Linked DNA regions of Homo sapiens. The protein of the gene in region 2 purifies or fractionates together with the protein of the main gene of each other region. This does not show direct contact. Each region holds a gene or a part of one and is shown on either strand. Other genes may lie near its edges.

The links. Proteins that work in one complex are often made in the same cells at the same time.
Region 1: the proteins of WDR36 (region 2) and PWP2 fractionate together in Homo sapiens (co-fractionation; 3 studies listed by BioGRID and IntAct, with this or other methods). This does not show direct contact.
Region 3: the proteins of WDR36 (region 2) and WDR3 purify together in Homo sapiens (affinity purification with mass spectrometry; 2 studies listed by BioGRID and IntAct, with this or other methods). This does not show direct contact.

The regions. Positions count from the first base shown.
Region 1 is NC_000021.9:44,110,343-44,117,739, reverse strand, and holds part of PWP2 (periodic tryptophan protein 2 homolog), read right to left. Parts: intron 3,988-7,397; coding exon 3,893-3,987; intron 3,562-3,892; coding exon 3,462-3,561; intron 3,116-3,461; coding exon 2,972-3,115; intron 2,477-2,971; coding exon 2,341-2,476; intron 2,050-2,340; coding exon 1,820-2,049; intron 1-1,819. UniProt on the Homo sapiens protein: Part of the small subunit (SSU) processome, first precursor of the small eukaryotic ribosomal subunit.
Region 2 is NC_000005.10:111,087,325-111,095,463, reverse strand, and holds the start of WDR36 (WD repeat-containing protein 36), read right to left. Parts: upstream 3,117-8,139; 5' UTR 3,008-3,116; coding exon 2,846-3,007; intron 545-2,845; coding exon 517-544; intron 1-516. UniProt on the Homo sapiens protein: Part of the small subunit (SSU) processome, first precursor of the small eukaryotic ribosomal subunit.
Region 3 is NC_000001.11:117,932,683-117,940,079, reverse strand, and holds part of WDR3 (WD repeat-containing protein 3), read right to left. Parts: intron 6,793-7,397; 5' UTR 6,761-6,792; coding exon 6,590-6,760; intron 5,608-6,589; coding exon 5,398-5,607; intron 3,312-5,397; coding exon 3,193-3,311; intron 1,601-3,192; coding exon 1,522-1,600; intron 604-1,521; coding exon 508-603; intron 1-507. UniProt on the Homo sapiens protein: Part of the small subunit (SSU) processome, first precursor of the small eukaryotic ribosomal subunit.

The DNA.
Region 1 (7,397 bases), on a different chromosome or scaffold from region 2:
CAGGCCACAGATCCAGGCAGGAGGTCCCAGACCTGCCCTCTCCCTCTCCACCCCAGGCCCTGAAGCTGCCCGCCTCCATCCCAAGCTCGGGACCCCAAAGGAACCTCACACAGCATCTCCACTGTCGCCAGCTGGCCCCACAGCAGAGCTAGTGGTGCACCCAGAGACAGCAGTGCCCATGGGAGGCAGAGGAGGTGCGGGAGGCGCGGCATGGCCGCCAGGCACACCCGAATCCCATCATCCCCTGCTGCTTCCTCCTCTAAGGAACCCTCGGTCCCCATCAGCAGACGAAGGTGACCCTGATGGCACCCCCGCCCTCAAAACCTCCCCAAGTCACGTTGTAGCTCAGCCCTGGTCCTTCCCTCTCCTTTCTGGACCCCGTCCCTCCTGAACAAGTGACAGGGAGCACTGGCTGCCAATGCAGCAGGCCCTCCCTTCACATGTTTCGCGCTGACAGCCCGCAGTCCCCGCCTAGCAGGCACACTGTCTTCCTGGAGCTGCCTGGAACCTCCCTTCCCCAGGGCGGGGTTGGGGGGCCCATCATCCCTTCCTCTTCCTCCAGTCCCCATTCAAGTCTTGACTCCAGCACAACACCCCCAAGTCCCCGCGGGCACTGACGGGCACGGACTCACGGGCACTGACCCACCCGCGGGCACTGACTCACTTGTGGGCACTGACCCACTTGGACCTGTTCTGGCCACCCTCCAACTCCGCTGCCCTTGGCAAAGCACCCTCCTCCCACTGGAGTCCAGCCGGCCCTCCCTGCTCCTCAGACCCAGGGCTCTCATGGCCACAACTCCCACCTACCCAGCAGACCCCAACCCCTCCAAAGGCAGCCCGTTCTGGCCGCCTGGCTCCCTCCACAGGCAGGGCCTTGTGTGGGCGCCTTCCCCACCCAGGGACCCCAACTGCCGCCCACCTCCGCACGCAGCCACCTCATCACTGCACCTCTCCTCCCCGGCGGAGAGGAGGCCTCACAAGGGTGGGCAGTGTGTCTCAGTGCCAAGTTCAGAGCCCTGCACACAGCAGGCGCTAAGCAACTGCAGCAAGGAGGGGCCCAGGCTGGGGCACCCGGGTGACGGAGACACCATAGCTGCGGGCAACTCTGCCTTCATGTGATCCTGACCAGCCTCCCCCCACAGCCCAGACGCGGGACACCCCGAATCAGGGCAGCATCTCTGCCAGGGCTCCAGGCACAGCTAAGGCCATCCCACAGGCAGTCCGTGGGGCCGGGCTCAGTCTCATCTCATCTCGTCTCGTCTGGGGGACTGAGTCCGGATGCGGGGCTGCACGGCCCAGCTCAGTGCCTGAAAAAGCACCAAGTACCACCCACCAGCGGGCCCCGAAGCAGGACTCAGACCACTCGCTGCGCCCACTCACAGCCCGGTCCCTCCCTCCACCCTTGCCAAATGCTCTCCCGGCATCTCCCTGCACGAGGCCAAGGGACTATCGCCCACACCAAACTCCACAGAAGCTGGTGGGGCCACAGACAACTCCCAACCCCCTTAGGGCCCAAGGTGCTGCTATTCCCGTCACGGAGTGCCCGCACACCTCCCTGCCCCCTATGCACCCCTACCCACCGCCCTCTGCCCTGCCCTGGGCACACAGGCAGCTCAGACAGCCGAGGCAGGGACCCTGCTTAAGGGGCAGGGTCAACACCCAAGCACTCGAGGGTGCTCAAACCGGGGCCCTGAGACGCAGGCCTGCTCTCTGTACCTCCCACTCCTCGGCCCTGGGGACCCCACATCCAGATCCCTCTGGGGGCAAGAGATTCCCACAGGAGTGCCCCGCCACAGCCCACCACACCTCAGAGACCTACTTGGCCAGCCGTGAGTACTTCACTTTTCCTGTCTTCTCCTCCTCGGCCGGAGTGGCTTTTCCCCGGATGGTGGTCTCTCTGTCGCCCTCCTGGTCCTCCTCCTCCTCCTCTTCCTCCTCCCGCTGCAACAGGTCTGCTTTCCAGCCCGCAGGGGGCTTCAGCCGCAAGCCCTCGGGGGGCGTGTCACACTGCCACATGCACAGCACTCCGTCCTGGCTGAGTGAGTACAGCTGCAAGGGGAAGCACAGGGTCACCCCAGCCCCAGCCACACTGGCCCAGCTGCCACAACCCGGCACCTCCCTCCAGCTCAGATCCAGGGACCAGTGGCACCGACGGCCCCTCTGAACTCTGAGAACAATTCTCGATGGGCCGCCACAGCTGCCATCGGTCCCTAGATGCCCCCAGGCCACACGGGAACAGCCTGGGGGAACCGCAGGAAGAGGCCGCCTGCAGCCTGGGGCCTCCCTGAACTAGCCGCTTTTGGCCACCATCAGGCTAGGGAACTTGGCAAAGGGACATACGTCCAGGCTGTTGGATTCAAAGAAGCAGGCCACGATGGCATCCTTATGTCCCCCCAGTGCATAGTAGATGAGGTTGTCCCAGCGCTCGGCTCCGAACACCCAGGTGGACATGTCTTTGCTCCCAACCACAAAGCACCTGGAAAAGAGGGAGATGGCACCTCCTCAGGGCTTGGCCATAACAAAGCAGCCAGGTGCAAGCTCCAGAGGGCTGCACGGAGACCGCTACAGCCCCACGTGGTCTCAGAGTGAGCTGAGACGCCTCCAGGCACAGGAAGACACCCCGGCACAGCCCCTGCCCTGTCTGCCTTCCTCACACCTCCCAGACGCTGTCCCTGCCCTGTCTGCCTTCCTAACTCCTCCCAGACGCTGCCCGAGCCAACCACAGCATTCCCAGTTTCTGGGACAAACAGGTGAAAGGGCAGTGCAGGGGCAGGAGGCTCGGCCACAGCACACACTTCAGAGCCGCAAAGACTCGACCACAGCCACCCAGCCAGTCCTGATGGTGTGGGCAGCGCCCAGCCCCAAAGGAGGCCGAGATGCCATTGCGGAACGAAGCTGCAGGGCCCAAGGGGGTGACCTGTCCAAGGGGCCTCTCTCAAGCCCCGCTCCCCCGAAGCCTCTGAGGCCGCACCTGGAGTCATCCGTCCAGTCGATGCAGGTGGTCTCATCGTAGGGCCCAAAATAGGTCTTGTCCAGAACGAAGGCGTTGAACTCCCGCTTCTTCCCAGGGGCATGATACATCTGGGCAATGTTACCCTTTGTGACAACAAACTTCCTATGGAAGGAACGCGGACATAGTTGATATTCAAGACCAGCAATGGCCCTAAGGCCACTGTGGAGTCTCAGCCTGCACCCACCTGGGCCTTCTGGAGTCCCGCCTCCTGCAGGATGGAGGCCAAGGAGCAGAGGAAGCAAAAGTCAGGGAAGAAACAGCCCTGGAGGGAGGGCAGCCTGGCCGCACCAAGCCTTCTCCTCCAGAAAAGGGGGTCACCAATGCCAGAGCTTGGGCCGTGTGCCCAACCCAACGTCACAACCCGGGGCCCAGGGAAACGAGCTGGGCAGTGGGCCTCACCGTCGGCATGCACGGCCGAACCCTCCTGCCCCCAAGCTGTCCCCCTTACCTGCCATCAGGGGAGAAGGACACACTGTGCACAGAGCCCTTGAAGTGGAAGTGGTGCAGCACAGACCTGCAGACCAGGCTGACCAGCAGCGCATCGCCCCCTGCAGGACGCCAGAGGTCACCACCGCGCAGCTACCCCAGGGGCCACCCCAGATACATAGCACGGGAAAAACGGAGAAAGGTCTTTCTCGCGTCCACTGTGAGGAGTCAGGACTGAGAATGCCCAAGGGCCATGAGGCCCTGCCCTGCCACAGGTGATGCCACAGACACAGCCTGCGGCGGGGACGCAGCCTCGCCCATGACACCCTCATCCCCAATCCCCACCCGGGCCCCAACACGGAGGCGACTGGGGAGCGGATCATTTCAGACCCACACAGCCCTGAGTCCTCCTCACTGGTCCCCTCAGTACCCGCCCACATCAAGGGCAAGTACCTTCATCGACGATGATAGCGAGGCGGCCATCCGGGGACAGCCCCACGCACTTGACGTTGTACCGAGTGGCCAGGGGCAGCGTGTCAGATTTGTTGCTGATAAAGACAAAAACCACAGTGTGCTGTTGGTCCTCAAGTCACATGAGGGAGACAGGCCAGGCCTGGCCTGGGACCAGCGGCTCACCCTCCCCAAGTAGCGCCTCCAATCTTACTGGACCCCACAAGCCAGAGCTCATCTGTGGATACCCCCCACTCCTGAAAAAGAAATGACATTGTTGGCCGGGCACGGTGGCTCACGCCTATAATCCTAGTGCTTTGGGAGGCCAAGGCGGGCATATCATAAGGTCAGGAGTACGAGACCTGCCTGGTCAACATGGTGAAACCCCGTCTCTACTATAAAAACAAAAAACAAAAAATTGGACAGGCGCGGTGGCTCACACCTGTAATCCCGGCACTTTGAGAGGCCAAGGCGGGCGGATCACGAGGTCAGGAGATTGAGACCATCCTCACTAACACGGTGAAACCCCGTCTTTACTAAAAATACAAAAAATTAGCCGGGTGTGGTGGCGGGCGCCTGTAGTCCCGGCTATTCAGGAGGCTGAGGCAGGAGAATGGCGTAAACCCGGGAGGTGTAGCTTGCAGTGAGCCAAGGTTGCACCACTGCACTCCAGCCTGGGCGACAGGGCAAGACTCTGCCTCAAAACAAACAAACAAACAAAAAAACCCAAAAAATTAGCCAGGCGTGGTGGTGGGCGCCTGTAATACCAGCTACTCAAGAGGCTGACGCAGGAGAATCGCTTGAACCTGGGAGGCAGAGGTTGCAGTGAGCTGGGACCGCACCACTGCACTCCAGCCTAGGTGACAGAGCAAGACTCTGTCTCAAAAAAAAAAAGAAAAAGAAATGACGTTGTCCCTGGAGGAACTCTAGTGAAATGCATTAAAAGCCTTAAAAATGGGCTTTGGATACATCAATTCTGCTTCCAGGATGATATGATGAGAGGATTATTCCGCCTCAGTGTGACATCAAAATACCAGAAGCAAGCTAAGTGCCCAACAGGAATTAACCACCATGACAGTGCACCCATGTAACACTGTTGCTAGAAAAATGGAAAATAAGGGGCTACAGGAATCCCGCGGAGATGCTGCAGATAACGCTTACACTGCAACTGAGTGAGGCACACACATTCCAGCTTCCCCATAAGCAGCCGAGCTGTGTTTACACCATACTGTAAACAGTACGGCGTAGTCTACTAGCGTGTGCTGTAGTCTGTAAGCGTGCACTGTGCTCTATTCGTGTGAGTTGTAGTCTGTTCGTGTGTACTGTCGTCGAAGTGTGTACTTTATTGGTGTGCGCTGCAGTCTACTCATGTGTGCTGTAGTCTATCAGTGTGCACAAGCATTCTGTCTAAAGCAACAACGTGCATCCCTTAATTTAAAAACACTTTACTGCTAAAAAATGCTAACAATCATCTGAGCCTTCAGTGAGTCTTCATCTTTTTGCTGGCAGACAGTCTGCCTCGATGTGGATGGCTGCTGACCAGGCACAGTGGCAGCTGCTGAAAACGGGGTGGCCGTTGCCAATTCCTAACACAACAGTGAAGCTTGCCGTATCGATGGACTCTTCCTTTCACAAGATGTCTCTGTAGCATGTGATACTGTTTGATAGCATTTTACCCACAACAGACCTTCTTTCAAAACCGGAGTCAATCCTCACAAATGCTCCCAGCGTTTTATCAACTAAGTTGATGTCATATTCTAAATCCTTTGTTGTCATTTCAACAGTCTTTACAGCATCCTCACCAGAAGTAGATTCCATCTCAAGAAACCACTTGCTGGCCGGGCATGGTGGCTCACACCTGTAATCCCAGCACTTTGGGAGGCTGAGGCGGGTGGATCACCTGAGGTCAGGAGTTCTAGACCAGCCTGGCCAACAATGATGAAACTCCTTCTCTACTAAAAATACAAAAATTAGCTGGGCGTGGTGGTAGGCGCCTGTAATCCCAGCTACTTGGTAGGGGGGCCCGAGGCAGGAGAATTGCTTGAACCCAGGAGGTGGAGGTTGCAGTGAGCCAAGATCATGCCATAGCACTCCAGCCTGGGGGACAAGAGTGAGACATTGTCTCAAAAAAAAGAAAAGAAACCACTTGCTTTGCTCATCCACAAGCAGCAGCTCCTCATTCATTCAAGATTGATGGCAACATTGCGGCAATTCAGTCCCATTTCAGGCTCTGCTTTCATTTCGAATCCTCTTGCTATCTTTACTGCATCTGCAGTAACTTCTTCCACCAAAGTCTCGAACCCTTCAAAGTCATCCATGAGGCTTGATACTAAACTTCTGTCAGACTCCTGTTAATGTCGACACTTTGCCCTCATTGAATGAATCATGAAATGACAACTAGAATGGCGACTCCTTCCCAGAAAGCTTTTTATTGGCTTTTCCCAGATCCATTACAGGAATCACTATCTTTGGCAGCTAGAGCCTTATAAAATATATTTCTTAAATGGTAAGACTTGAAAGTTAAAGTTACTCCCGTAGGCTGAAGAAGAGATGTGGTGTTAGCAGGCATGAAGACAGCATCTCCTTATGCGTCTCCATTGGAGCTCATGGGTGACCAGGTACGTTGTCCAACAGCAGAAATATTTTGAAAGGAACCTTAGTGGGTTCAACAATGGGCTGGAAAGATTCAGGAAACCATGCTGTAAACAGATGTGCTGTCGTCCAGACTTTGCTGTTCCACTTATAGAGCACAGGCAGAGTAGCTTGGGCATCATTGTGAAGGGCATTAGGATTTTCAGAACAGTGAATTAGCACTGGCTTCAACTTAATGGCCCCAGCTGCATTAGCCCCTAATAAGAGAGTCAGCCTGTTGTTTGAAGCCAGACACTGACTTTTCTCTAGCTATGTAAGTCCTCGATGGCATCTTTTTCTTTTTTTTTAATTTATTTATTTTTAGATAGAGTCTTGCTCTGTTGCCCAGGCTGGAGTGTACTGGCACGATCTCAGCTCACTGCAACCTCTGCTTCCCAGGTTCCAGCAATTCTTCCACCTCAGCCTCCTGAGTAGCTGGCATTACAGGAATGTGCCACCATGCCTGGCTAATTTTTGTACTTTTAGTAGAGACGGGGTTTCACCATATTGGCCAGGCTGGTCTCAAGCTCCTGGCCTCAAATGATCTGCCTACCTTGGCTTCCCAAAGTGTTGGGATTACAGGCATGAGCCACTGCGCCTGGCCATCTTTTTCCAATAGAAGGCTGTTTTGTCTCCATTGAAATTTTGTGTTTAGTGTAGTCAGCTTCATCAATGATCTCAGCTAGATCTTCTGGATAACTTCCTGCAGCTTCTCCATAGCACTTGCTGCTTCGCTTTGCACTTTTATGTTGTAGAGATGGCTTCTTTCCTTAAACTTCATGAACCAACCTCTGCTAGCTTCCAACTTCTTTCCTGCAGCTTCCTCACCTCAGCCCTCACAGAACAGAGGACAGGTAGGGCCTTGCTGTGCATTAGG
Region 2 (8,139 bases):
TAACTTTGAAGAGTACTAAGATATTTACATAGTCCCAGTGCATACTACCAAAAGATACTTATTCGTTACAAATGACAAAACACTAACTTAAAAATAGAGCCTCCTAACCAATCACTACCAGGAACAGAACCAACTAACAGCATGTGCCTTCTGATACAATTCACTGTGATTCCTCCCAAGGGGTACAACCTAAATCTAATCCTGAAGAAATGTCAAAAAAACTCAAACTGAAGGACATTCTAAATGAGCCTGTACTCTTCAAAAATGTCAATGTGTCAATGTCATGAAGCACAAAGAAAGTCTAAAGAACAGTTCCAGATTAAAGAAAATAAAGATACATAACAACTAAAAGCAAAACATGATTTATCCTGGCACCCTTTTTTGTTGCTGATAATGTAAGTTTATAAGACATACATGTTACCTTGGCTTCCTTATATGCTCTGTAAGTCTCACATTTATGTCAAAATAAAAAAAAAGTTTAGATGTGCATAAATTCAGAATAAAGTCCATACTTACTTACTGCAACCAGACTAAGTTTCTGAACCTGTTTAAAAAAGAAAAAAGGTTAAATTTTCATTAACAAACATAATCATAATAACCTAACACCTGAAGATTAAGATATAACCTCATACGTATATTTGCTATGCTGTCCTTCATAAGAAAGACACTTACTGACACTAATTTTCTTTATTAGGAAAGTTTATATTTTCAACTGTATTTCACCAGGAGTGGTGATGGAAGGGGTAGGCAAATGTTTTCTATAATGGGCCAAATATTAAATATTTTAGGCTTTGCAGGCAATGCATGTGGTCTCTGTTGCCAACTACTCACTTCTGCCACCGTAGCATGAAAACAGCCATACGTAATAGATAAATAATGTGCATGGGTATATTAAACTTTTATCTATAGATACTGAAATTTGATTTTCACATAGTTTTCATGTCATGAAATATCCTTCTCCCTACCCCCAGCCTGCCCCCACAAACATTTAAACATGTCAAAATCATTCGTAACTCCTGGGTCATACAAAAACAAACAGTGGGCTAGACTGGCTTACAGACTGTAATTTGCTGACCCCAATCATGGCTACTGATCCAGCTGTATGACCCTGGAAAAATAAGCTCCCTGTGCCTCAAATTCTTCATCTGTAAAACAGGTATTTATTTACTTTATGGGATTGTTATGAGGATTCAATGAGTAAATTTGTGTAAAACAGAATGGGGCCAGTCATATAGTAACTGCTCAATACATGATAGCTACTACCATCACTACCACCACCTATTCACAACTTGTCTAGTTTCCCCTGTAGAAGAAACTAATCTGTAGGACTGTAGGAAGTCTGACTGGGGACAGCATATATAGCCATAGTCATGGGATAGAGCACTTGTAGACCCAATTAGTGACTTAGGTTCATTAGCTCCTTTTTTTTTTCTTTTTACTCCCAAGTATTTTCAGTTTTAGAGGTCACAGCCCAATGCATTGGTTAATCTGAGCAGTGTACAGTCTGGGTAAAGAACATTTACATGCCATGATGTTACGAATGTATCATCAGTGTTAGAACTAGAGGAGAACTTAAAAGCCATCTTTATTATGACTAAATGTCAACACACAGTAAGTAAATTGTTAACTTTATAAAATGTACAAATATGTTACTCTCCTCACCACAGGGTTTCTTTGGAAGTAGAATATAGGGAAAAACACCTGTGTCTGTGTGTAATGCAGTGTCAGGAAAGACACTGTACCAAAGACAAGATTTCAAGAGTTATTTCAGTAATAAACTCAGAAAAATTACATTTCAAGGAAGAAAACATTAACCAGCAAAAGCAAAAGTTAGCAAGCAAGGAACAAGTGCAGAGAATGGTAACACTAAATACTTTCACATGATTAATATGGTTCTAACCCACCCTGTCTCCATTACCAGCTCAGACTCTGAGAAACCCAATTGCTCTTCACCTCAGCTCTGCCCTCACTTTCCTTTTCCACTAACTCAACTAGTTCCTACCTCCCAGCTCTTTTTGCTAATAAGCCATTTGATATTCACAATCCTCCAAGAGAGACAACTCTACCTGTTTTCCAGAAAAGAAAGTACTTAATTAACACTGACTATTATCATCCTCCTCATCAAGGTTTCTGTTCTCACAGAGGTTACATTCTTTCGGAGAAGACAAAAGAAACAAGTAAACAAGAGACACTATTACAATGATCGATGAACTGTTATAGGAGAAAAAATCATCACTAACAAGTGATTTATCTGAAATTTACTTTAATAGATTATATAAAGGTGCTACGGTATAATGACACCTATGTTGCAAAGAAACGGCTGCAAGGCTTAGAGTGACAGTGCCAGACACTTTGCGTTAGTTGAAAATAACTGATTGCTATTAGATATTTTCCCTAACGGTAATTAATCTCACCATCTCCGGTTCTCCCAATGTATTCTACCTAGAGTGAATTTCTAACTCAGCTCGTGTCACCAATAACGTAATAGCGTGCATGTTTTTCTCTCTCATTAAGAATGCAAGAGGTAGAGGTTTGTCTTAATTATGTTTCCACCTTCAAGGGAAGGTCAATAAATATTCACTGAACAAATATTACTGCCATACAACTGAGATGTTCTCTAGCAGTTTCCCCTTGGCCAGGCTGCCTCTGAAACACGCCCCAGGAGGACTGCAAGTGCCAAATCAGCACGTGGACGTGACCGGATGGCGAAATATTAATAGGACAGGGAGGGGTTAAAGAAGGGAAGCCCGTGGTAAATGGGAAGGGAGAACCGGACTGCTCCAGGACAGAGTTAGAGGCCAAGGAGGGTGGTTTTCCTGGGAAGCTAACAAAAGAAGTCACTCACGTCATAGGTGTGGAAACTCTTGCCCACGCAGGTTGTTACATAGAACCGGCGCTTGAGCGCGCTGAACCGCACCACGTGTGGAATGTCGTTGCTGAAAAGTCCCAAGGCCCGGAACCCCGCAAAAAGCGCGCTGGCCGTGCGCCTTTCTGAGGCCCGTTCCATTGCCGCCGCGATCCCAGCTCCTCTCAGCTCTGGTCCTGAAGGAAAACACGTACCCAGTCCCTTCAGCGTGTCTAGTGGAACAGTCCTCTGCCAGAGCTGCAGACACAACACCGCTTCCGGCGCCCGCTGCGAATCGCGTTTCCGGAGACTGCCCTCAGTGCAACACATAAAGTTCTCCCTCCAGAGCTCACATGGGAGGCGTGACTTGGGTTCCGAGGGCCAAGGTCTCCAGCACGTTGCCTAGCATTGTTCTCCAGCTCTTTTGCGGTGGAAGGAAGCTCGTTAGGTTCCGACAGAACCGCAAGGGCGGGAAACAAAGAGGGAAGCGCGACGCCCAGGAGAATGGAGGGGAGGTCGACGCCTTGGAGATGGAAACGATTTAAACATGTGATTATTTAAAAATGTACAAAAACATGAGACTGGAAAAATTTAAACACTGGATATCTGATGATATTAAGGAATTATGTTTCATTTTTACATATGATAGTAGCATTATGATTACGTTTTTAAAGATCCTCATCTTTTGGATACATATTGACATATTTACAGATGAAAACTATAATGGGACATTTCAAAACTGACAGAGGGATTCACTCACAGACCCTCTGGGGAGTAGAACTAATTACTTGTGGGGAGGGAACTGCTCACTTGGGCAACTTGGATAAGTGTAGATTCCTCCCAGAAAAGGAAGATAAATATTAAATGTTATTGGGATTCCTGGATTAAGTCAGTATTCCTTGAGGTCGGCTGTCAAAAGCAGACAGTAGAGGTTCTAAAGAGGAGCTTATCATAATGCAAACGGGAGTCCGGGCAGTTCATTAGAGCTGAGTGCCTTAGGATGCTGAAGGAGACTGATTCCAGTGAAGTGGGTGTCAAGACGCCTCACTCCTCAGGAGCCAGCTGCCTTACCAAGATGTAGGTTTGGGGAACAATCTCTGAGCATGTGAACATTAACTAAAACAGTGGTGAGCTTAGAGCCCAGGACCAAAGTTCAACATATGGAATAACCTCTTCTCTTACTGTTTTATTTCCATTTCATTTCGTTTATGAAAACGTTTTGGCAGCCTATTAAGGTTTGGGTCGAGTGACTAACGTAACTATACTAGTACTTGAGAGGGATAAAAAGGGTATATTTACTAATGTAAATGTACTTGAAAGAGATAAAGAGGGTCTGTCTCTACACAGATCAGTGTACTCTCTCGGGTTCCTTCCAGTTCTAAAATGTAATTATTATGAAACAAAAGTCACTTGTTAGCTAATTTGAATACCTGACTCATACATTCTTGAACAAAAAAAATCTTGATTTATTTTATAGTTCTTGGCACAAAGCCTCAAACACTTTGGATGTTAAGATCATTAAGGGGCAGATGCTAACAGAATGAGAGCTTGTTATTTAGTCCTTGACATGTTGTACTTACTTGTATTTTCATTTGTACCCCGGATTTCTCAATAGCAGTGCACATTTTCAGCCATGTTTTTGGTATGACTTAAAAGTGAACAAGTTGCTAATTATTTGTAAATGTTCTTTAAATTAAAAAAGAGGGGAGAGGGGAGGAGCCAAGATGGCCGAATAGGAACAGCTCCGGTCTACAGCTCCCAGCGTGAGCGACGCAGAAGACGGGTGATTTCTGCATTTCCATCTGAGGTACCGGGTTCATCTCAGTAGGGAGTGCCAGACAGTAGGCGCAGGTTAGTGGGTGCGCGCACCGTGCGCGAGCCGAAGCAGGGCGAGGCATTGCCTCACTTGGGAAGCACAAGGGGTCAGGGAGTTCCCTTTCCTAATCAAAGAAAGGGGTGATGGACGGCATCTGGAAAATTGGGTCACTCCCACCCCAATACTGCGCTTTTCCGACGGGCTTAAAAAACGGCACACCACGAGATTATATCCCGCACCTGGCTCGGAGGGTCCTACGCCCACGGAGTCTTGCTGATTGCTAGCACAGCAGTCTGAGATCAAACTGCAAGGCGGCAGCAAGGCTGGGGGAGGGGCGCCCACCATTGCCCAGGCTTGCTTAGGTAAACAAAGCAGCTGGAAGCTGGAACTGGGTGGAGTCCACCACAGCTCAAGGAGGCCTGCCTGCCTCTGTAGGCTCCACCTATGGCAGCAGGGCACAGACAAACAAAAAGACAGCAGTAACCTCTGCAGACTTAAATGTCCCTGTCTGACAGTTTTGAAGAGAGCAGTGGTTCTCCTAGTACGCAGCTGGAGATCTGAGAACGGGCAGACTGCCTCCTCAAGTGGGTCCCTGACCCCTGACCCCTGAGCAGCCTAACTGGGAGGCACCCCCAGCAGGGCACACTGACACCTCACACTGCAGGGTACTCCAACAGACCTGCAGCTGAGGGTCCTGTCTGTTAGAAGGAAAACTAACAAACAGAAAGGACATCCACACCAAAAACCCATCTGTACATCACCATCATCAAAGACCAAAAGTAGATAAAACCACAAAGATGGGGAAAAAACAGAACAGAAAAACTGGAAACTCTAAAAAGCAGAGTGCCTCTCTTCCTCCAAAGGAACGCAGCTTCTCACCAGCAACTGAACAAAGCTGGACGGAGAATGACTTTGATGAGCTGAGAGAAGAAGGCTTCAGACGATCAAATTACTATGAGCTACGGGAGGACATTCAAACCAAAGGCAAAGAAGTTGAAAACTTTGAAAAAAATTTAGAAGAATGTATAACTAGAATAACCAATACAGAGAAGTGCTTAAAGGAGCTGATGGAGCTGAAAACCAAGGCTTGAGAACTACGTGAAGAATGCAGAAGCCTCAGGAGCCGATGCCATCAACAGGAAGAAAGGGTATCAGCAATGGAAGATGAAATGAATGAAATGAAGTGAGAAGGGAAGTTTAGAGAAAAAAGAATAAAAAGAAACGAGCAAAGCCTCCAAGAAATATGGGACTATCTGAAAAGACCAAATCTACGTCTGATTGGTGTACCTGAAAGTGATGGGGAGAATGGAACCAAGTTGGAAAACACTGTGCAGGATATTATCCAGGAGAACTTCCCCAATCTAGCAAGGCAGGCCAACGTTCAGATTCAGGAAATACAGAGAATGCCACAAAGATACTCCTCGAGAAGAGAAACTCCAAGACACATAATTGTCAGATTCACCAAAGTTGAAATGAAGGAAGAAATGTTAAGGGCAGCCAGAGAGAAAGGTCGGGTTACCCTCAAAGGGAGGCCCATCAGACTAACAGCGGATCTCTCGGCAGAAACCCTGCAAGCCAGAAGAGTGGGGGCCAATATTCAACATTCTTAAAGGAAAGAATTTTCAACCCAGAATTTCATATCCAGCCAAACTAAGCTTCATAAGTGAAGGAGAAATAAAATACTTTACAGACAAGCAAATGCTCAGAGATTTTGTCACCACCAGGCCTGCCCTAAAAGAGCTCCTGAAGGAAGCGCTAAACATGGAAAGGAACAACCGGTACCAGCCACTGCAAAATCATGCCAAAATGTAAAGACCATCGAGACTAGGAAGAAACTGCATCAACTAACGAGCAAAATAACCAGCTAACATCATAATGACAGGATGAAATTCACACATAACAATATTAACTTTAAATGTAAATGGACTAAATGCTCCAATTAAAAGACACAGACTGGCAAATTGGATAAAGAGTCAAGACCCATCAGTGTGCTGTATTCAGGAAACCCATCTCATGTGCAGAGACACACATAGGCTCAACATAAAAGGATGGAGGAAGATCTACCAAGCAAATGGAAAACAAAAAAAGGCAGGGGTTGCAATCCTAGTCTCTGATAAAACAGACTTTAAACGAACAAAGATCAAAAGAGACAAAGAAGGCCATTACATAATGGTAAAGGGATCAATTCAACAAGAAGAGCTAACTATCCTAAATATATATGCACCCAATACAGGAGCACCCAGATTCATAAAGCAAGTCCTGAGTGACCTACAAAGAGACTTAGACTCCCACACAATAATAATGGGAGACTTTAACACCCCACTGTCAACATTAGACAGATCAACAAGACAGAAAGTCAACAAGGATACCCAGGAATTGAACTCAGCTCTGCACCAAGCGGACCTAATAGACATCTACAGAACTCTCCACCCCAAATCAACAGAATATACATTTTTTTTTCAGCACCACACCACACCTATTCCAAAATTGACCACATACTTGGAAGTAAAGCTCTCCTCAGCAAATGTAAAAGAACAGAAATTATAACAAACTATCTCTCAGACCACAGTGCAATCAAACTAGAACTCAGGATTAAGAATCTCACTCAAAACCGCTCAACTACATGGAAACTGAACAACCTGCTCCTGAATGACTACTGGGTACCTAACGAAATGAAGGCAGAAATAAAGATGTTCTTTGAAACCAACGAGAACAAAGACACAACATACCAGAATCTCTGGGAGGCATTCAAAGCAGTGTGTAGAGGGAAATTTATAGCACTAAATGCCCACAAGAGAAAGCAGGAAAGAGCTAAAATTGACACCCTAACATCACAATTAAAAGAACTAGAAAAGCAAGAGCAAACACATTCAAAAGCTAGCAGAAGGCAAGAAATAACTAAAATCAGAGCAGAACTGAAGGAAAGAGAGACACAAAAAACCCTTCAAAAAATTAATGAATCCAGGAGCTGGTTTTTTGAAAGGATCAACAAAATTGATAGACCACTCGCAAGACTAATAAAGAAAAAAAGAGAGAAGAATCAAATAGAGGCAATAAAAAATGATAAAGGGGTTATCACCACCGATCCCACAGAAATACAAACTACCATCAGAGAATACTACAAACACCTCTACACAAATAAACTAGAAAATCTAGAAGAAATGGATAAATTCCTTGACACATACACTCTCCCAAGACCAAACCAGGAAGAAGTTGAATCTCTGAATAGACCAATAACAGGATCTGAAATTGTGGCAATAATCAATAGCTTACCAACCAAAAAGAGTCCAGGACCAGATGGATTCACAGCCAAATTCTACCAGAGGTACAAGGAGGAACTGGTATCATTCCTTCTGAAACTATTCCAATCAATAGAAAAAGAGGGAATCCTCCCTAACTCATTTTATGAGGCCAGCATCATTCTGAAACCAAAGCCGGGCAGAGACATAACCAAGAAAGAGAATTTTAGACCAATATC
Region 3 (7,397 bases), on a different chromosome or scaffold from region 2:
AAAGAAAAGATAACCCCTAGCCTACTAATGTAACTCCCATCGAAATGGCTGCTGGACCCAGCACACACCGAAATTCAGCTAAACCTAAGGTCTGCAAGCTTTTCTTCTATGTAAATTCTTTGAATGTCTAAGAAAAAGTTATAGATCTTTTCAGAATATACATATTTATAAACATAAAATTCTACATATATATTTGAGGGGAAAGGTTCACAGATATTCTGAAGGCCATCCATGGACACCCAAAGGTCCAAGAATATCTGATTAAGAGTGCCACAAACTAAAACATTAGTATTACCAGAAGCTGTAAGCCTAAAGCTAACCTGAGCTCAAATAAATAAGGATAATGAGCATATAAGGAAGAAAAGCTTTTTTAAGTGTTGCAGGTTATTGGTGTGATAGAATTCCTTCTAATATGATGTGAAGTACTGAATAATTACATCTGATTCTAAATCCAAGGTGCTTATGAAACTTCTAAACATATTGCCCATGATTTTAAGAAGTAATTACCTCTTGCAGATAAGCTATGTCCCATACCCTCAGTTCACTGTCTGAGGCCCCAGTGATGAGTCGCTTTTCTTCTGACAACAGAACCAACCCCCATACCTATAGAATATAAAAAGATTTGAGTAATACGATTTTCAAGAGATTCCAGGTAGCATAATATGACATTCCAAAAGTCTGTTACACCGTAGTAAAATGTCTAGCAATTTAAAGGCAAAGAAAAGGCATATCGACAACCCTTTCAAAATGCACTAAGAGAAGTCTCACTTTTACAGAGAAAAAAATGGCCTGCGGTGAAATTGTTACTTTTGTGATACTAGCAGTTTGTCTCTAACCTCGTATAATCAAATTAAGATAATGGCTGTTCAGCATAAATCTTAACTAGAATCCACTCAAATGATGATTTTAAGTCTTCTATTTCTTTGCTTTTAGCAGTGTCTAGCAAATAAAAGGTGCCCCACTAATGTCCATTGCATAACTTTCAGCTTCAAGTATCCGGGAATTAAATAATGAAAATAATATTGTTGCAAATCAACAAAGAATTTAATCTTCTTGTCATTAATTCTAGGTATTACCTTCCTGAATGCCTGATATGAATAAAGCACTGAGGATGCAAAGATATATAAAAAACAGTCCCTGAACTCAACTGAATAGATCTCTGTTCAAGTAACTATTTTAACAGCTACCACGTGCTGCTTACCTGTCAATAAGCTAGGTGCTGCACATATAATATCATTAAACTTCCCTACATTCATAAAAGTGGACACTTATTATTTAGAAATGATGAAACTCAGGAATTAAAAACCACGCAAGGCCAATTTTTACTACATGTCAGAGCAGCAGTATCTGCTCCAATGGCTGGCATTGCTTCCATCATACCAGCCTCACTGTCCCTCAAGATGGCATATGATAATTACTGTGTGCACTAAAAACAAAGAGCCATGAAAGGGGAAGAGAAGACCACCACCTTTTCCCTTTTGCCTTCCCATTATTTCCCTGGGCCCATGACCCTACACTTACCTCAGTCCGGTGGCCAACCATTGTTTTAAAGCAGTGCTGAGTATCAAGGTCCCACCATTTCACCATGGTATCTTTCCCACTAAAAGAAGAAACAGGAAAAAAATATATAGCCTGTTTAGGAAAACTCATTCAACGAATAGGGAGATCCAAAACTCACTGTTGCTTTAAAAGGAACATATGCTTCAATAATGTCTAAAGCTCCGATTCTCTCTGATCTTACTTTTGAAAAGCAAAGAATCCTAACTTTCCTTGTAGTTATTCCTGTGCAGAAAATAAAATGTTCCACCTATAAGCACAAGAATGACTTTAGATGCAGAGTACCAAAGAATACAGAATTTGATCCATCAGGCCTTCCTCCTATCATTTCCATCATCACAGCACTGGCATTCCCCTCAGACAGTCTACCATGGAAACATCTTAGACCGCTCCCACTCCCTTGTCTTCCTGTCCAGTTAGTCTCTTGTCCTGAAAATGCCTCCTCTGTGAAGTTTCTAAGTATTAACTCCTCTAGTCCATTTCTGTACACTAACCTGAACTTAAGTCCTACTACCTGGATTATTTTAACAGCTTCTCATTTGGTCTCTTTGTCCATTGCTGTTCTCTCATCCCATCCAATGTGCAACTGTCAGATAACCTTAATTTTTAATATTTGCACTAGCTCAATGTTCCCTGTAGAATCAAAGTCAGGCTCATTGGCAGCAGTCTCAAAATTTCCTATTTATTTGTTCTTAACCCCCTAAATATAACCTCTCGCAGCCAATGGCCTCTACTACTCCTGCTCAAACACCTCTTCCCTACCTCCTCACTACATAAATCTAATATAATCCTCCTTCATGAGCAAACTGGAAAAAAACACCGCTCAAAAACCTGATTTACAAAGTCCGTCCCATATAACCCCACCTTACAGTGTTATTTCTTTGCCTTTATATTCCCTAAGCTGTAATATATATTTTTTCTATTAGAACTATAGAATCATTCTCTTACAGAACCTGTGTTATCTGAACAAGACACTAATTTACCTGTATCCTATCCCACAGAAACAAATCCACCATTGGTAAAGCATTTAGTGCTCACAGCTTTTTCTGAGTCATTACTATGGTTCCTCTAATTAATGCCTGGCAAACCTTGGTATCCCAGCTTTTCCTAGGTGGCCATTCTTTAGGAATATTCATTATTATATTAGGTTGAACAATATAAAATTGTTGATATTTGATGATTTTTTATGTACACAAATAAAAATTTCAAATGGTTCATCCTAATAGGTGTTCAGAAGGCCTATGAAGTACAGTACATCTCTCCTCAAAAGGCAAGCCGAATTTAACACCTGGTATTCATATCTTCCCTCTGCTCCATATTCTGATTCCTGGCTTTCTAGAGATCTAGAAGGTAGACAAAGCTCATTCTATAATGAGTTTCAAAAGGCTAAGAAACACAGAAAAACTGATATCAAGAAAAAAGAATGACAAATTAGAAAAATGATTTTAAAAATAATATAGCTTTGGATAGCTCTACGATACTACTTAGAAGAAATGGAAAGAAGGAATGCAGGAGAACAGGAGAGAAAACTAATGCATAAGCATGAGCACACTGCTCATGAGAGAAATGAGTAAGGAATAAAGCAAATTCTCTCTTCCTAGAAAATAACTGGAAATTAAACCATTATTTCTTTACCTAGTAACTAGCAGGTTCTTTTCTCGTAGAAACAATGCTTGTGTGATGGCATCCTTGTGCCCCTTTAGACGGTACAGACCACTTTCATTGATCACATCCCATACAATAATATCTGTGTCCTAAAGGGATCAAATAATACAGATGAAAAATAATTTTCTTTACCATATATGGCCCAACTTGACAAACAATGAGACTTAATTATTAAAAAGGCAATACACAGTCCTTACAGAAAATTTGGAAAGCATGGGGAAAGTACAGGGGAATAAACACCAGCCTTATTCTCACCAACCAGAAATAATCCCCAGACATTGTTATTGCTCTAGTCTTTATGTATAATCCAGGTTATTTTCCTATTAGAAGACTAAAATCATGCCATTCATATCATTTTACAACCTTTTCTTTATTCATTTAATATTATTTCCATTTCTTCCATGTTATTCCAGAGTGTTCACATTTTTAATGCTCACATAATAATCAATTCTAAAGTAATAGCACAACTTATTTAAAAATTTTTCTGTTTCAGACATTTAGTTTCCAACCTTCTGCTGTTATAAATATGCAGAAGTGAACATTCTTATATACAAATTTCTGTATGTATCTCTGATTAGAAAAAACTAAAATGAAAAGCTCTTGGGTTATATGATATGTTTATTTTTAAAGTTTTGGATTCATACTATCAAAATGATCTCCAGGTTGGGTAAATCTATAGAACCAGCAGGGATATGTATGACAAGGCCTGTTCCCCATTCATTTAACTCTATTATTAGTTTTCTCAAAAACTACTACAAATATCATAAGTAAAAAATGTTCAGTCTTAATATTTATTTTAATTTACATTTTTTATGAATACAAATGAGAAATATTTTACATGCTTTATGGTGATTATTGGCCATAAAGTATCTCTTTTGAATTGCCAATTCATGACTTTCTTTTGTCTATCATTCTTAGAGTGTCATCTCTTATTTGACTGTAAGTTATTAATAGATGAATGATACTAATCCTTTCTTTTTATATTGAAAATATTAAATATTTTAACTTTTTCAGTGTCCTCTGACTTGTTTTTAATGTACAAATGTTTCAAGTATTCCAATCTACCAACAGTTTCCTTTTTTAATTTATTTCTTTGCTAATAAAGTCCTTTTCTACCTTGCTATCGGATATTTACTTACATATTTTCTAGTTTACTTTAAAATGCTATTTTTTAATAGTTAAGTCTTTAATCTTTGTTTCATTTTGGTATATAGCATGAGGTAAAGCTTTAATTTAAAAATTTCGCTCAAATAGCCAATTGTCTAAGGACTGTTTTATAAGTAATCTATCATTTTTCTACTTATTAAAATGTCGTCTTTAAAATATACTAATTAGGAATGTAATCATGGATGTGTTTCTGAGATTTCCATTTGGTTGCAATAATCTATTTTGCATTGGTACTTGCATTGAAGTATCAATATGATACTTCTTAAATTATGGGTTTATATGACATTTTAATATCTAAAACCCCTGTTTTATTATTCTTTTCTTCCCAAATTTTAGTGTTTCCAATTCCTTTGCTTTTCCATATTAGGTCAAGTTCTAAGTAACAACTAAAACCTTTAAGATATCTATTTAAATATATCTGTATCTATATAAACATATGTCTAAACATAGCTTTAGCTATATAAATCAATTAGAAAACACTACCATCTTTTCAATACCTTGTCTTCCCATTCAAGAACATGGATTATATCTCTATAAAAGTCTTCTATTCCATTCTTCAGTAAAGTTTCATGGTATTTTTATGTCTGTTACTTAATCTGTTGTGAATGGAATCTTTTATATTTTCTAACTCATGACTTGTGAGATACAGGAAATTCTACTGACTTTACAGAAGTCAATGGCAAATAATTATTTTGTCTCTTCTTTTCCAGTCTTTGTTTTCTTTCCTTATTTTACTGTTTTGCGTAGCACTTCCACAATAAGAGTTATCATGGCTCTCTTCATCTTATTCCTACACTTAAGAGGCTTTTATCAGAAAATATGACAAAATGAACAAAAGGAAACAAAATGAACCACCCAATTCACACCCATCCTCTTCACTCTATCATTATACTACTTTGTATATTGACAGCCCATTGTTTTACCTGACAATTTTTGTCAACAACTTGCTTCAGCATAAGCCTTACATTCCTTTAATAGATCAAAGCCTGGGCTGATTCAAAGGCTCACCTTGGACCCAGATGCCAGTCTGCCTCCTAGCTGATCATACTTCAAGGTAGTGATAGCTGCTTTGTGACCATTGAAGGTCACATTTCCTTCCCCACTCAGGAGACTGAAGATTCGGATCGACCCATCCTCATACCCAACAGCTAAGTGTAGCCCATCTGGGGAGGGGCATAAGCAAGTAACTTCTTGTTTAAGCCCCTGAAGGATAAGAATCTGAAATCATAAAAATTAAAAACAATGTAGAAGAGTTAAGCATGAACTCAAGGGAAAAGCATAGGAATACTCAGGCACAGTAAAATTAAGAGCACCAATAATTCCAAATTACTCTTATGAATAAAAATGAAACTCCACAATCCATTTCAAGTTTTTTAATATAGAAATTAGTATTTGTACTAGGCAATGAAACATTTAAGAAAAGGCTTAATTATTTTCTCCAAAGCCCTACGTTGTTGTAATACATATAAAAACTCCCTAGGCAATAAAATAAATTTAATCCCTTTAATCTAATTCTTAACCCTAGAACAACACTACGTGATTTTCAATAAAGGTTTATAAATTCCTTTAACTGAGACCCATTTTATAAGAAAATAATCTGTGTGGCAACAGAGTACTGCAGTGGTTTTAACCACAAAGGACTCTTGGTGGCAACAAGAATCAAAGTACTAACCTCTTGGGAATCACAAAATGAATGGACAATATCAAAATGCCTATATTTGGTTTGGCAAAAGTGGTAGGCTTAGGGAATTCAGTCACACAAAGTATCAAAGTCTACTTTAACAACACTTGGGCATTATCCATATTAGAAAAAGATTCTGCCAAAATAGACTAACCTTCCTTTTACATGCCTAATATTTTATAACCAGCTATAAGCATAAGTCGAGCTTGAAAAATAGAATTGGTAGAGAAAAAATACATCAGGAATAAATAATTACTGCAAATAATGACCTGTAAATATTCCAACAAATAGACATCTAAGAAATAAGCTCCTATTTCATTGTGGTTTTCAGAATTCAGTGGCGAAGAACACAAAGGAACTTGATGCTTGGCTAGCTAGACCTAAAGGAAAAAGATTTTTCTTCTAAGGGCACAGACACAAAAAAACTCATGATAAATAAATCAGAGCCCCCCCACTTCTACTACCTCTCCATCCTCAAATACCAATAAATCAGTATCAAACTGGTCATTTTAGGCTCACCTTCTCTCCTTTCCTTAAGTCCCAGATGAAAACGTGTTCACAAGCTGGTACTGCCACATAACGTCCTTTCTCACCACGAAGTGTCACAAAGACAATATTACCTTTTTGGCTGCCGATAACGCCAAAGACCGCACTAGCAACATAGCGTAGGTACTGCTTGGTGAGCCCCATGTTGTGATGTCTGATACCACAGGTGAAGCAATCTGTGCATATAAACAAAGAAAACTCAGCTCCTTGGGTGCCTTGGTTCTACTAGGTTAGTAAACACCAACTGTTTTTTTGTTTTTGAGACAGAGTCTCACTCTGTTGCCCAGGCTGGAGTGCAGTGGTGGGATCCTGGCTCACAGCTGACTCCACCTCCTAGGTTCAAGCGATTCTCCTGCCTCAGCCTCCCGAGTAGCTGGGACTACAGGCATGTGCCACCATACCCGGCTAATTTTTTTTTTTTTTTTTTTTTTAGTAGAGATGGGGTTTCACCATATTGGCCAGGCTCGTCTCGAAAGCCTCACCTCAAGTGATCCATCCGCCACGGCCTCCCAAAGTGCTGGGATTACAGGTGTTAGCCACTGCGCCAGAACAACACCAACTGTTGATCATGTCATTAAAAGCATGTAACTTGTGACTTCTTAATCTTTATTTACTCTAAATGAATCATTGACCTAAAATACCTGGACATCATTTTTTATTCAGTGTTGACTCAATATAATCCCTCATTCCTCAAGTTCCAAATTAGTCACGTTGTCATGCCCACCTCATGCATATCTGACATTATAGGCTCAATGCAGCTAAACTGATTTACTTCTGCCCA